Linked DNA regions of Homo sapiens: region 2 is linked to region 1. A link means that fine-mapping ties the variant in region 1 to the expression of a gene that starts in the linked region. Tissue or cell type: prefrontal cortex. Region 1 holds a variant in brackets; the other region holds the start of a gene. All regions are shown on one strand. Distances are from middle to middle.

Region 1 (7,826 bases):
AGGAGGCGCCGAGAGCGAGCAAGGGCTGCGAGCGCTGCCAGCATGCTGTCACCTCTCAACAACACCATTGACATTTTGTGCAGCTGAAGGCAGCAGGCCAGATGGACAATGTGACTAATGTGGAGTCACACTCCAGAAGGAGTCAGATGCATGCATTCTGCTTCCTAGGTCAGTGTTCTTCCCTTTCATATTGCTTTTATTTTCATTTTTGTGACTGAGTGCAAACTGCTAGCTCACTTAAGTGCTTAGTGCATACTGTCTTTTTGGTTATTTTCCTTTGTGGTAATATCTCCTCAGGGATTCATCTGAGTCTTTGAAATCAACCTACCTACATGTTAAAAAAAATGCAGTGAAAAATGCTATATTCTATGCCTATATGCTATTCTAGAGACAATTTTAGAATGAAAGGAAATTATCTCTGTTAGAGCCTTCGGGGAGCTTAGATTTCTGATATAAAAATGGGAACGCAGTTTTCCTCTATCTCCCATTTTAGGACGTCAGCTTCTATTATTTTATTGCTGGCAACCTAGAAAAGGGAAAAAGGAAAATAAAACCATGCCATTCTAGAAATAGTGACCTAATTTCAGCCCTAGAAAAAAGTAAGAGTCAGAGGAAAAAAAAAATCCTCAGGAAGAACAGGAATATCATGATTCAGAATTAAGGTATGTTAACAACATTCTGTATGGCAGAGGCCGAAATGGTAAGACAGAGAAGAGATTATTTGACCTGCGTACAAGCACCTGGCCAGATTTGGGAAGGGGACCTGACAGCACTCAGTTTATTGGACCTGTATCTTGCCTTTAGCCAAACCATGCTAATTAAAAGTTAGCAAATATGCTAATTAAAAGTTAGCAAATGAATGTTGGGAATTCGAGTTCTAAACACAGTTCTAAACTTGGGAATCTCTTAATAAGGACCACTGGCTCTGCCTTTGAGGGCATCAGATCCCAAAAGCAAGCAAGCCCCATGAAGTCTAGAAACCAGAGAAAGAAACTGTTTATCAATCTGTAGTCACAAAAACCTTGAGCAAAGACAGGTGTCTCTTCCTAGGAGAAGCAAACACAGTCACAAGAGAAAAGCAATTGCTGCATTAATAAGTAAAAAGGGAACAGAAGGATTTTTCTTTAGAACGGATGCATGGGATTTTCTTTGGTGATGTAATCTGTATTATATACGGGTTCACGTAAGAATGAACTCCTTGGAGTTTGTGTCTGGATCTCAGGCAAGTTGAAGGGTAAGGTCAGTTCCACAGGCTTAAGGCAAATTTCCTCATCTGTAAAATGGAATAGGAGGATCTTTCTTGCAGAGTTTATGAGGATTGAGTGGGTTACACTAAGGTCCTGGTACAATGCCTAGTACAGATATGACAGTTAACAAGTTACTTCTCTTCCTTCCATTAATGATGGCAAAACATTTAAAGTTTTGCCAGAATGCTGGGCAATTATTAGGGAGATAAAGGTGGATACAAAAAGAAAGATCAGGGGAAAAAAGAACAACCTGAGAAGAATAGAAAACTGGATATAACAAGTTTTATGTTTTTACACTTCTGATAAGAGTGTTCCTTTTATCAGGGCTTTGCAAGTAGGGACCGGGTATTATTTCCCAAAATGGTGAGTAAAGAAGCAACTAGATGCATTTGAGCTTTCAAAAAGGTAGAGACAACTAACCACATGTTAAGGTTTTATTTTTGAAAAGTTTTTAGAAAATTCCTAAAAAGCTTGCCATGCACTGTGGTTGTAATTGCCAAATTTCACGTGTAGTTGCTCTCAACTTCTATATCCCATTCAAATTCTTGATCATTTATTTGACTTTTCTTTCTCCATAACTTTTAATTCATCACTTGCCTGTGTGCTTGGGAAGTTCCTCATTTTGGCCTCTCTCAGGAGACCTCTCTCCATGCTAGGCAGGCGGACATTGTGATGTGTATCTTAGCCCCCCGGTTTTCCTTTTAAGGAACCCCTGAGAATGGTAATATTATTATCCCTATTTTACAGAAGAGTTGGCTTACATTTAAAAGCAGTAGTAGTGAACCCCAGAGGCACCTTGCCTGGCTTTAAATTTTGGTCCCCTATTTACTAGCTGTGTGATTTTGAGCAAGTTGCTTAACCTCTCTGTGTCTCAGATTCCTGATCTGTTAAAAGAGAATAATACTTTTGCATTATGGTTATTGTAAAGCTGATAATGCATGCTATGTGCTTAGCAGAGTACCTTGCACTAAGCGAGTTTAGGATAAATATTAGCCATTATTGTTATGAGAGAGGTTAAATATCCCGCTCCTAGAAATATCAGCAGCCCCTGTAAAAGGCATGTCAGCCTGTTTCTGGAGCCATTGTTCTCCACCACTCTAGGGTGTATGCACCTCATGCGTTGTGTTATTTTATGAATCGAATTGAAGGCCAAGTGCTATAGTCTTTGGAAAAAAATTATTACAGCTTACAAAAGATCAGAAAAATTTATTTTAGAAATTTGAAGGTATCAGAACATTGTAAATATTTGATTCATCCTATAACTGAAATTGAAGGATGGATATATATGATTTGCAAATAAAATAAAAGTACACATAAAGTGATTCAGTTTGAGTATCTCCAGTAATGGAAATGGCAAGAAAGTGGCATTTCTTGCAAGGATAATGAACAATTTACAAGAGAAGTAAATACAATCTGTAGCTCATTAAAGTCTTAGCAATAAGCACCTGTGGTAAAAAGAAACTTATTAGGGCTTGAATGCGGGCTAGACTAGGTGTGGTGACGGATGACACTAAGAGTTTTATGTGGGGGGTGGAAGGGCAATTCAAGAGGGATAAAGTAATATAATGGTAATAGGCTGCCTCTTTCTGTGGTTCTGAACAGAAGAGGAAAGAGCCATTTAGGAGAGGGAACTGGCCAGCTTCCCTTCTCTGAAGGCATATGCCTCAAGGATGCCCTACTTAGCACTGACATTGCGGAATTGTTCTCCTGTTTCTCTGAATTTTTTAGAACAAAAAGATTTAAGATATTTGAGCCCCTAGATGAGGTCCTGCTTATTCGGCAGCTCTTTCTTGACTCTTTCTATCTCACCCTTTCTAAGGAGCTCAGAGTCTGAGCTTGATTTTAAAATCTGTGTAACTGTGTGATATTATAACAATCACTTCTCTGGAAAAATGTTGAGCACAATGGAAGAACAGAGGAAAAGCAGCAACTCTGTCTGGGATTGTGAGAAACAAGATCACTTCCCCAAGTTTCTTGTCATATGCGTAGGAATTTTTTAGGTAGAGGAGAGAAAAGGAACTGCATGTGAAAGGGAATGGTGACAAGTGCATTTGGGGGAGGTGGCCGGGAAAAAACACGTTTATTATCTCCTCTTTGAAATGTGGGGGTCCAAGCCATATGTGCTTGAAAATTTTGAATTTTTCAGATTTTTGAAAGAACTTTGTTCAGTTCCTCCAAGTTTAACTGTTCTTCCCTCATTAAGACTTTTTTTTTTTTTTTT[TG/G]TATGAGCACTGGCCCGAATCAGTGCTTCCTCAGGTTATAGCTTTTATGAATCATTACATTTTCCTCGTCTCTGTGGGAATTGGCCTCTCCCCAATTTCCTGCATTGGTCTATAGTTTTCCTTAAGAACTTGAAAAGCAAAAATTAGACTTTGTTGTATAGAATAAGTGGTGAATGAGCACATGCACCAGAAATCAACATAAGAATAAGTCCTTTTGAGTGTTCAAAACTGGTGTATTATTTGTGACTCAGACTCCTTAAATTTCGTTTACATGTAGCAATTTACTTTAGAACTCAGTATTCATATGTTCAAACGATTTTTTGTCCTCTCTGTGTTCTCTCCAACCCCCACTCCCATCCTATTAACAAGCACTTCCCAAAGGTCCGATTTTATTGTACTCATCTAATTGATAAGCGTGCTCAATTTATATCAGTGACAGTTTAGCATATTTTAGAAAATTTTACATTACATGATTTCATGAATTGGAACAAGACAGGGTTCATTCAGCATTGTACAAATGAACAAGGGGTGGGTATATATGTGTGTTGCTCACATTACTAAACTATTACAGTGTTATTCAAACTTGAACATGCATCAAGCTCACCTAGAGGTTCTTATTTCCAGAGTTTATCATGCAGGAGGTCTGGGATAGGGCCTGATAATCTGTATTTCTAATAAGCTTCCAGGCTATGCTGCTGCTGCTGTCCCAGAGACCACACTTTGAGAACCACCAGGCGTTAGCAATCTAGGGGGATAATTCACTAGAGGGAGTGAAGGAGGCTCCACCAGCTGGCTGTTGACATTCACTGAAGGAACGGAGGGATGATAGGTCTGAATGCTCAGCAGATGAAAGAAATAGAAGGATGGTGAACAAATGTGGAATTAAGAAATATGCCTTAGACCCTTCTGAAGCACAAGTCGATGACTTCTTGGGGCTGGGAAGCAGTGCAAGGCAGGAGGCAGAAATGGAGCAACTGAGGTTCAGTTATGACTTCTTGATGAGGACATTATAGGGAAGCAGGAGAAGGAAGGGTACAGAGATCAAACTTCCACACACAACAGCCCTCGTTTCAAATCCAGGGTCTTCCAATTTACCCAGGTGTTTTGATGTTTTTATGAGTTAACCTCCCTGACTCTCAATTGTCTTCTCTGTGAAGTGTGGGCAGTTGTGGTAACCTCATGGAGACTAAAACTGCGTCAGACACTAGCTACAAAATAAAATACTAAAATACTTCTTTTAGTCATAATGAAAGGGTCAGCTAATGACGATCACAATTCTGGACCCATGGATCACATTTAATATGTATTTGTGTCCAAGCAGAACTTATAATGATTGGATTAACATAATAAATTTGAGGCATAGCAGATAATGAAAAACTGCAGAAGAGCCAGGTCCCTCACTCTCTATTACTGGGAATGCAGAAGAGTTATGGTTGAACTAAAGCAAAAAAAAAAAAAAACAATAATAATAAAGACAATAACAGCAATGAATATTTATTGAATTCCTTCTGAATTTCTATGAGCCATGCCACCACAATTTTAAAATGTGTATATATACACACTCGTGTGTGTATGTGTTTGTACAATCCTTCACAGAACTCTATAATAAAATAGGCATTATTAGCAGTCCATCTTACTTTGAGAAAAACTGAGATACAGGCAAGGTATAGACCATATAAGAAATACCCCAGAGGCATAAAATTTAACATTTAGCATTAAATAAGTTCAAAGGTATTGAGCTTTCCTTGATCCGTATGTATCTTGCCCTGTCTTTGTTTGTTCCATAGTATCTCTTTATTGTTCCAAGATCTTAAATATTCCATTAAAAATTTCTATAGCAATCCATTTGCTATGTTCACAATCCCTCACCATGTTTCTGACATTTTCTCTCCGTTCCTGGCATGCTGCTTTTTTCTAAATGTGTGATTAATGGTAACCTCCAAAGACCAAGGTGGTGCAACCAGTTGTGGCTGTGCTTGTTTCCTTTCCATATCCAATCATGAAGGGCAGGGCATAATACAGTATCAGCCATCCTGTGGGAGAGTGGAGGTCAGCACTACCTCCCTGGCTAGTCAGATTGACTTTTTCAGAAAGAGTTACCAACCTGGTTTCCAGCAGTGGACCAGGCTTCAAAGGGAACACTAGCCTGGCCTACTCACAGAGATTGCTCTGCTTTCAGAGAAAGTTGACAACCAAACACCCTTGCTATTAATCACCTCCTAACTCAAACTCTGACTCCTGAGCTGGCTTAGCATCTCATTATCTAGCTATGTCTTCCTGCCTTTCGTTGTTTCTCCTTACCTCCATCCCTAGCTTCAGGAGACTCTCCACCTTTTTCACCTGTGCCCTGTTGAGAATGAGCAATGCCCTAGTCTAGAATACCAGAAAATGTAAGAATTTAGTAAGTAAAACATATTATTCTAAGGGGATCAAGTCAGTATAGTTTGTTGCTTTAAGCTAAAAGGCTATAAGAGATAATTGGCACCCTATATTGAAATAGAAAAGTTGCCACTATTTCTAGAGGTTGTTATGTGGGTGAAATTGCTTAAACTTCAAAATTAAAGTCAGTTTGAAATTTATAATTTTATGGCTTAGGGCTTTTTAGTGATACTGTTGAGCAAACAATAACATTCTCACCTTGCAGGAGCGTTTTTTAAGATATGATAGATATCCTATTTTTTTGGATATGAATATAGAAGAAAGATTCCCCTCATTTAGGGAATCCTTATGTTTTGTTTTCTTTCTTTTTTTGTTTTTTGAGACAAAATCTCGCTCTTGTCCCCCAGGCCGGAGTGTGATGGTGCAATCTCGGCTCAAGCAATTCTCCTGCCTTGGCCTCCCAAGTAGCTGGGATTACAGGCACCTGCCACCATGCCCGGCTAATTTTTGTGTTTTTAGTAGAGACTGGGTTTCACCATGTTGGCCAGGCTGGTCTAGAACTCCTGATCTCAGGTGATCCACCTGCCTCAGCCTCCCAAAGTGCTGGGATTACAGGCGTCAGCCACCGTGCCCGGCCCCCTCTCCTGTTTTCGTAGCTTTTTCAATGCCTATCTTTATTACTGAGTTTATAATAATACACTGAAATAATCTACTTACAGCTACTTCTCACATGGGCCTATGAGTTAGTGGGACCCTGTCTTATTCATAACTGTATCCTCAGCATCTAACTCAGTGCTTGGGGCATAAAATGTGTCTTAGAGAATGTTTGTCAAGTAGAACTCAATTGAGGTGGGACTAAAGACATTGGTAGGAGGGGTTGTTTTCAGATTAAGGGATATTATGAATGTTTGTGGTATTACAGCTGTGATAGTTAATTTTAATTTTATGTGTCAGTTTGACTAGATCATGGAATGGCTAGATATACAATTAAATAATAATATATCCGTGCAAAAGTATTGTGGTTTTTGCCATTGAAAGCAATGGCAAAAACCACAACTACTTTTGTACTGATTATATGGTTTGGCTGTGTCCCCATCCAAATCTCATCTTGAATTGTAACTCCCACAATATCCATGTGTCATGAGAAGAACCCGGTGGGAGGTAATTGAATTACGGGGGTGGACCTTTCCTGTGCTGTTCTCATGATAGTGAATGAGTCTCATGAGATCTGATGGTTTTAAAAACGGGAGTTTCCCTGCACAAGTTCTCTCTCTTGTCCCTGCCATGTAAGAAGTGCCTTTTGCCTTCCACCATGATTGTGAGGCCTCCCTAGCCACATGGACCTGTAAGTCCACTTTTAAACCTCTTTCTTTTGTAAATTGCCCAGTCTCAGCTATGTCTTTATCAGCAGTATGAAAATGAACTAATACAACTGATCTAATATTTCTGAGTCTCTCTGTGAGGATGTTTCTATAAGACATTAGCTTTTGAATTGATAAGACTGAGTAAAGTGGATTATCTTTTCCAATGTTAGTGGGCATCATCTAATCCATTGAGGGCCTGAATAGAACAATAAGATGAAGGAAGAGAGGATTTGCTGGCTCTCTGCCTGACTGTTTGAGCTGACACATCAATCCTTTCCTGCCCTTGGACTGACACCTAAACCATTGGCTTTCATGCTCTCAGGCCTTTGAATTATGCCACTCTCCTGTGTGTGTCTCTCATTCATGGATGACAGAATTTGGAACTTATTAGCCTCCATAATCTCATGAACCAATACCATATAAATATATGTGTGTGTTTCTGTGTCTGTGTGTGTGTGTGTGAATATATGTGTATATACGTGGTATTTTTAAAAATCCTGTATATGGTATATATCGTACATTTTTAAATATATATATGACATATACATACCAAATATGGTATTTATGGTGTGTGTGTATATATATATATGGTATTTTAAAAAATAAGACATATA
Region 2 (7,826 bases), 380 kb after region 1:
GACAGCAAGTGGAAGTGTTTCCACATAATATTCACAGCTGAAACATATGTTACAAATCCATAAAAATAAACGTGGCTAGAAACCACACTAAGGAAAAAAACTTATTTGCAACAATAGGAAAAGTGGCTGAGTGAATTCATATTATTGATCTATTAGGAGGAATAAAGTACATGTCTTCCATAAGCATTCAATAAGAAAAAGCAAGAGGCAGTTTTATAGGTATGAAATGATTACATTTTTATTAAAATACACAAATATGCGTGTGTGTGTGTGTGTGTGTGTGTATATATATATACTTATTTAAGAAAAGGAAAGATACATATTAATGTGTCAAGAAAGGTACAGAGATTTACCTTATACAAATGGAATGGAATGGGTTCAGGGGAATCTTTAGCTACTTTCATAAATATAAATATTTATTTCTAGCCATGGTAAGATTATGGATGATTTTGGTAGTTTATAACTATTTTTACCAATATACATACACATAAACATGTTGAGTTAGACTGATACATCTTGGTACATAAATATATTAATGTTATATCAAGTGAATAAATTTGGAATTACAAAGGAGCAGCTTGCTGATTGAGACTGTCTGTGTGTATGAGAGATACACGTGTATATATATGTGGAAGGTACACTAAACTGACATTTTTGGGGTGAATTTACGTAGGACTTTTATTTTACAGTTTGGCTATTGTAGAAAATTGCTTGCAGTGAACTAGTTTATTTTATCATGAAATAAAGAAAAACAAACCAAAAAGGCAATATTAGGGTTGGCATAGCAGAAGCAATAATTCTGCTGTAATGATGGCTAGGAAGTAAATGCTGTCCTTTTATTTATGGAAGCAAAGGTCTTCTCTAGGTCCAAAAGGATGAGGTAAAATTCAAACTTCTAAGCCTGGCATTCAAGAGCCCCTGCAATCTGGCCTCAATATAGCGTTATGACCTTGAGTCCCATATGTCTCATAAATTCCATTCTATGAAATTGTTTTGTTCATATCCTCAGAATGCACTTTGCAGAGTTCTACTTCCACAAATATCCTCATACCAAATTTTATTACCTGGAATGACATTCCTTCTCCTCTGTACCTTTCAGAGTCCTATATTCTATCCTTATTTGAATTCTTTCTTTTCCTTAAAAGCCATGTTTTCCCTGAAATCCAGTGTGGAGTTCCAATCCAGCTTGTGCAAGCTAAAGAGAATTTATTTCACCCACAACATTCATTAACACCCTAGAAACAGGTGATGAGATGCCTTAAGCCTAGCCCCTAATAATAAAAATGTCCCAAAGTTAATATATATTTGTTATGTCCCACTTCAATATTTCCCATATACATATGCATACAGAAAAACATAACGGGAACATCTACACACTGGAACAAATACTTAAGAACACTGCAAAGAGAGAGAAAGAAGTGGAGGTTTATCATGTTTTACTTCAGGGATTCCACAGTTCTATTACACTTTTTTGAATTATTGTAGATTATTAACATATTGTGATTGAAAGCATCTCCCAATTAGCCCCATGATATTCCCCAGAGAAAGCCAACTTTCCAAACTGACCAGTTGCCAAGTAAACAACGTATTAATGAGAGGTCAAGAGTCGAAGCGTGGAAGTCAGATGAAATCCTGGGTTTGGAATTCACTTCCTCTGCTTACTAGCTGTGTGGCCTTAAGTGAATTAAGTAACTTCTCTGAACCTCAGTTTCTTCATTTATAATTAGCATTGGTAATACTACAGACTGCACAGAACCACAAAAACCCTAGAAGAAAACCTAGGCAATACCATTCAGGACATAGGCATGGGCAAGGACTTCATCTCTAGAACACCAAAAGCAATGGCAACAAAAGCCAAAATTGACAAATGGGATCTAATTAAACTAAAGAGCTTCTGCACAGCAAAAGAAACTACCATCAGAGTGAACAGGCAACCTATAGAATGGGAGAAAATTTTTGCAATCTACTCATCTGACAAAGGGCTAACAGAATCTACAAAGAACTCAAACAAATTTAGAAGAAAAAAACAAGCAACCCCATCAACAAGTGGGCAAAGGATATGAACAGACACTTCTCAAAAGAAGACATTTATGCATCCAAAAGACACATGAAAAAGTGCTCATCATCACTGGCCATCAGAGAAATGCAAATCAAAACCACAATGAGATACCATCTCACACCAGTTAGAATGGCGACCGTTAAAAAGTCAGGGAACAACAGGTGCTGGACAGGATGTGGAGAAATAGGAACACTTTTACACTGTTGGTGGGACTGTAAACTAGTTCAACCATTGTGGAAGTCAGTGTGGTGATTCCTCAGGGATCTAGAACTAGAAATACCATTTGACCCAGACATCCCATTACTGGGTATATATCCAAAGGATTATAAATCATGCTGCTATAAAGACACATGCACACGTATGTTTATTGCGGCACTATTCACAATAGCAAAGACTTGGAACCAACCCAAATGTCCAACAGTGATAGACTGGATGAAGAAAATGTGGCACATATACACCATGGAATACTATGCAGCCATAAAAAATGATGAGTTCATGTTCTTTGTAGGGTCCTGGATGAAGCTGGAAACCATCATTCTAAGCAAATTATCGCAAGGTCAAAAAACCAAACACCGCATGTTCTCACTCATAGGTGGGAATTGAACAATGAGAACACATGGACACAGGGTGGGGAACATCACACACCGGGGCCTGTTGTGGGGTGGGGGGAGGGGGGAGGGATAGCATTAGGAGATATACCTAATGCTAAATGACGAGTTAATGGGTGCAGCACACCAACATGGCACATGTATACATATGTAACAAACCTGCACATCGTGCACATGTACCCTAAAACTTAAAGTATAATAAAAAAAAGTATCATATAATACGTGCAAAGTTGATGTTGTGACAAATCCGTTCCCTACCATTTACGGGCTCGACTGTCCAAACTTCAGCTACCAGCCCCTGCTGTTCCTTGGCTGATATATTTAACTGTCTGTTCTGCCTGCAAACAGGGCAGGTTGCAGGTTTTCTGTTTCATCAGCAGGACTCAACTACGACTGCTGGGCACTGGCAGTTAAATGCCCCAGTGTCCTCTTCGTTAGGCAGGATGCCTGTAAGGGTCATATCTTATACTTTGTTTCAGGTTCCCTCAGGGAAAGCAGGCCCACTGTAGTAATTGTCTGACAATCTACCTTCCGTAGCCTTTTTACCTATTGTCTTATTTTCCTATTCCAATACTTACATTTCTTGGAATCATCTCTTTATTAAACGACTTGTACTCAAATCCTTGTTTGAGCGCCTGCTTCTAGGGGAACCCAAATAAGACAATCAAGGGCATGGCATAGAATAAGCATTTGGCAAATGTTACATTCTATTCTATGATTACTACTTCTAAACTATTTACATTAACAATTCATAGTATGCTTTTCACGTGATTCACCTTCCATACATCGAAAGAAGACGAGCCTGGAAGTATAGTAAATCCTGTATAGAAAATGGAGAAAAGTAAAGGCTTACAATTCTAATTATCTAATGATGACAGTGCTGTCAATGAAGCTGCCAAAACTACTGTCAGGGAAAATGGAATGTCCCTTTTGTTACATGAAGAAAAGAAAGGCCCAGGGTACATAGTACATACCAAACAAGTTAGTTCTCATAAATATTTCCAGTAGTTCCCAGCTTCTTGCCATTTGTGTATTCTACATTTGAAGCCAAAAATACTAATTCATCCATTGAATATCTGCTCTGGAATGTCATCTCTCATACTGGTTTCTCCTACAACACCATGTATTTGTTATACACCATGTAATGACTAGCATGACTAGACTGTTCTTCATTCATAACTATATTCAATCGAGCAAAAGGTAATTGATAATTCTTATAGTGAATTACAATGATATGTAAATATTATGATTTACTAACTTCTTTTACATCCATTCTCCCATTACAGCCTTTCAACTGTGCTATGAAGCAGTATAGGTGTGTATTAGTAGACTCATAAAACAGATGAAGAACCCATGATTTAGAGAAAATAAATTATTTACTCAAATGCCTAGTCAGAATGTTGAGTCCTTGAACTGGATGTAACATTTTTTAAATTATATTACTCCTTTTAGAAAACTGACTTAAATCGTCTAAGAACCTATCTAATACTAGTTAAACAATGAGTACAAAGTTGTCTAAAAGTTTTAAACACACATAGATTCAACAAACTTTAACCTTTCTGACCCTGACCTCCAGATCCAGACTGAGTTCAATGCCGATATTCTTACTTAACACTCCTGTCACACCATCTTTTTCTGGCCTGTACCTTGCAGTGTTTCCACTTGTTCATGCCAGGTGGAGTAAGACAGAGACCATAGTTTGTTTGCACATGGTGGTATACCAGTTGTCTGGGGCAGTGCCTGGTACTGAAGTAGAGGATTTCTAAATATTTGTAAAATGTATTACAGATTAATCATTCTGCACATGTGCCACTTTTCTTGTATGGAAGTGCTGATTTATGAATATGTTTTCAAAAGCAATTATAGTTTCCCAACAAGTATCTACTGTTATGCCTACTTCCATTATAACCGAAATAAGGTTAAGAAAATGTTTTCTGTTAAGGAAGAAAGTATGCCCAGTGCTTATGAGATCAATGGGACTGTGTATTGTTGTAGAAAGTGACTCTGTGGTCAAAATACTAATTTGAATTCCCAGTCTGCGTTTCTACTTTTCTACTGTAAAATGTTGATAATGTAACAAAATTTAGGAGTTTCAGTTTCATTTTCTGTAAAATGAAAAATGATATTAATTTTTGTTGGGATTAGAATAAAATGTATATTAAATGACTTCGCATTAAAAGCATTCAGTAAATGGGGCAATTATTCTTTGATCTTCATGTTTGATCTTTCTTCATAGTATTTATAAACTAGCAAGTCTGTTGGTTTATATGACTATTGTCTGTCTCATCCCCAGCCAGAATGGAAGCTCTGTGGCAATAGAGACTGTTGTATACACTGCTAATTTCCTAGTTAGAACAGTGCCTGAGACAGAGTAGGTGGTTAATTACTATATATTGACTGGAAGGATGTCACGATTTTATAAGTTGGTGACTCATTAGGCATGCTCACTCTACGCCAAAAGACATGGATAAATTTGAAAATATCATTATGCTTTATCCAGCCAGGGTTGGACTTTATACTGTGAAAATTCACAGGATTTTAGGTCTCCTGGAGTTGAGTTAAGATCACAATGACTCGTCTTTTGATGAATCTCAAAGTGCACAGGATAGTCGTTACTCAGGGAACTTTCTACTTTGGACACTTCTGCATTGCCCATTTTCTTTTTAGGGCACAGTTACTCATTCTACAAGACACACTTTAAAATGAAGAAGCTGGGGCTGGGTGTGGTTGTGTAATTTCCCCAAAGGTACCCAGCTAATTAACAACAAAGCTTGATTCAAAACCAGTCTCTTGATTAAGATTTGTGCTCCTCCTATTCTGCCAACCAGGTGTGAATTAGTAACAGAGTATTTTTAAAAAATAGTATGTGTGTCAGTCACTAGTATTTCAAGTACTCTGGGAATCTGCTTAAATATAATTCTTAGGGTAACTTCCTTTTTCCTTCTTCCCCAGTTTTTTCTCTTTTGTTTATGTATTTTGTTTATTTTTATCTCTTCATATCTCTTGCTTTTTGAATGGTACCTTAAATGACAAGTTTTCATTTTTATGAAAAAATATTTTCTTCAATTGAATAGAATAATCTTGATAAATACTCACTCAACAACACTAATAATTTATTATAGCACTTCTGCAATGACAATTCAAAATTATACATATCTCATGTGCAAACACAAGTAACTTATGATCATATTTACATAGTTCATACATAAGCAGGGAACAACAAAAAGAAACTGTAATTTATCACTATGCCTGTGGCCAATATGTTGAGACACAGCTTTGTGTTTTGAAAATCACAATGTGTATTTTTAGAGCATATCTAAAAAGTGTGTTCCCCTTCTAATAAACTTTATCCATTCTTAAGGCAACATTCACTTACAAATATTCTACATTTTCTCCTCTAAAGTTGCAGAGGTTTTTTTTTTTTTTTTTCAACATGAAAATCTCATTTCCATAAGAAAAAGGCAGCTGTGTTCCTAATATAGAACTGAAACATGACTGCTTTAAAAGTGGGCCCTGACACATTGATTCAAACTTTTCCCATCTTCACTTGTTAGCCATTCAGTGAAAAGGCAGTGATGGATTATGGAAAATGTAAGAAGTACTAAAAATATATTTTTCACCTAAGCACACTGTTTTCTTAAAAATAAAAAAAGCAAAATAGTGAAACAGTTGTCTTTACTCAGTACTATTTTTTCCCTATCTTTTTTTTCATTTATTTTTCTATAACTGAATCTTCATTCCAGTTGAGATTTTCATCATGTTTCACAGTCTCTAATGGAACCAGCTTGACCAAGCTCACTTTGAAAATTGAATTTCAGAGGGTAAATTCATTATAAATTGAAATAGGACATTCTAATTAAAATGAATACTTTTCAAAGGAATCATCGATATTTCCCAGGTGATCCTTTCTTGCTGCCCTTATTTCTCTTCCATAGTACATATTTTATAGATGCTTTAAAGCTGTAGCTCAAATTAATACATCTGTGCACCAATACTTGGTGGAGCTATTCATTCTTAACTGTAAATAATTTTGGAGTATTAGAAATGACACAGGCAACTTTGAATAAAACTCATTCATTTTACAAAAGAGGAAACTGAGGCCTATAGAGGGAAACATGAATTTTTGTTTGAGAATATCTATATTTGAAATTTTGTAGTTCTGATAATATTAAGGAGGATGACCATAATAATGTTATGGCTGTTTGACTGCAATTCAGGATAAAGCAATCAAGAAAAACATCCAAGTGAATTCTATTGACTAGCACACTCATCCATCTGAAATTGACTTCATAGGCAATGCATATCAATTAAAGAATGCAGGGAATAAATCATTTTCTTTTCTTTGTTGGGAGTTATTTAAGTATTATTATTAGAAGCCAAGTTATTGCTAAGTAGCTTCACAGAATTAATTCTTGAATATATATATACATATAAGTTATTTGATGCTCAGTCTTAAATATCATATAATATATATACATATGTATTAATGTGAATATATAACTATATTGTATATATTAATGAATATATAACTATATTCATATGCATTAGTATGACTATATATAATTATATCCATATATGATATGAATAATATTTGTATATATTAACATGAATATATATAATTATACCTATATATTAACATATACATAATATGAATATAAATATATTCAACTCATAAGAGTTCAAATAATGAGGATAAACTGCCCAGAGCTTCACAGTAATTATGTAGCAGAATATGAATGTCCAGCAGCTTCTAACACTGTAGGAACAGCACTTGATGACTTGCCCCTATTTAGGGGTCAAAACTAATTGTTTTGTCCTTATATTGGGACAGAATGTGGGGGTTGTTCCTATATTGCTGCTTTAAAAATAAATCTAAAATATGGACTTTATTTGAATTGAACAATTTTTCCATTAATGTCCCTTATCGTTCTAGGATTTAATCCAGAATCCTACACTGAATTTAGATATCATATATCCCAGCTTTTTTTTTGTCTGAGACAATTTCTTCGGTTTCTCCTTGCTTTTCACGACTTTGAGATATGTGAAAAGTATCTATCAGTTATTTTGTCAAATGTCCCTCATTTTGGATTTGCTCAAAGTTTTCTCATAATTAGATAGAGGTTGTACATTATTGGGAATGATACCAGAGAGGTGATGAG

Alleles and levels. Alleles are on the strand shown, and positions count from the first base shown. SD is a standard deviation of normalised expression in the study named.
For the expression in prefrontal cortex of the gene that starts at base 3,103 in region 2, TG is the low allele of the variant in region 1 and G is the other (small effect, 0.35 SD a copy in CommonMind).

What was found. PIP is the estimated chance that this variant, and not a neighbour inherited with it, causes the effect.
Region 2: LINC02270 starts here. The variant in region 1 is fine-mapped to the expression of LINC02270 in prefrontal cortex (CommonMind, PIP 0.95).

What each region holds. Positions count from the first base shown.
Region 1 is chr4:12,601,684-12,609,509 of GRCh38, reverse strand. The region is part of intron 1 of LOC105374492 (a long non-coding RNA gene); the gene reads left to right. Among named protein-coding and RNA genes, the nearest start is that of LINC02270, 380 kb to the right of the region's middle. RefSeq lists an enhancer at 1-333. The variant TG/G (reference allele first, on the strand shown) is at 3,469.
Region 2 is chr4:12,218,728-12,226,553 of GRCh38, reverse strand. It overlaps LINC02270 (long intergenic non-protein coding RNA 2270), which reads right to left and starts at 3,103. Exons shown (of 4, transcript NR_125910.1): 1 at 2,926-3,103.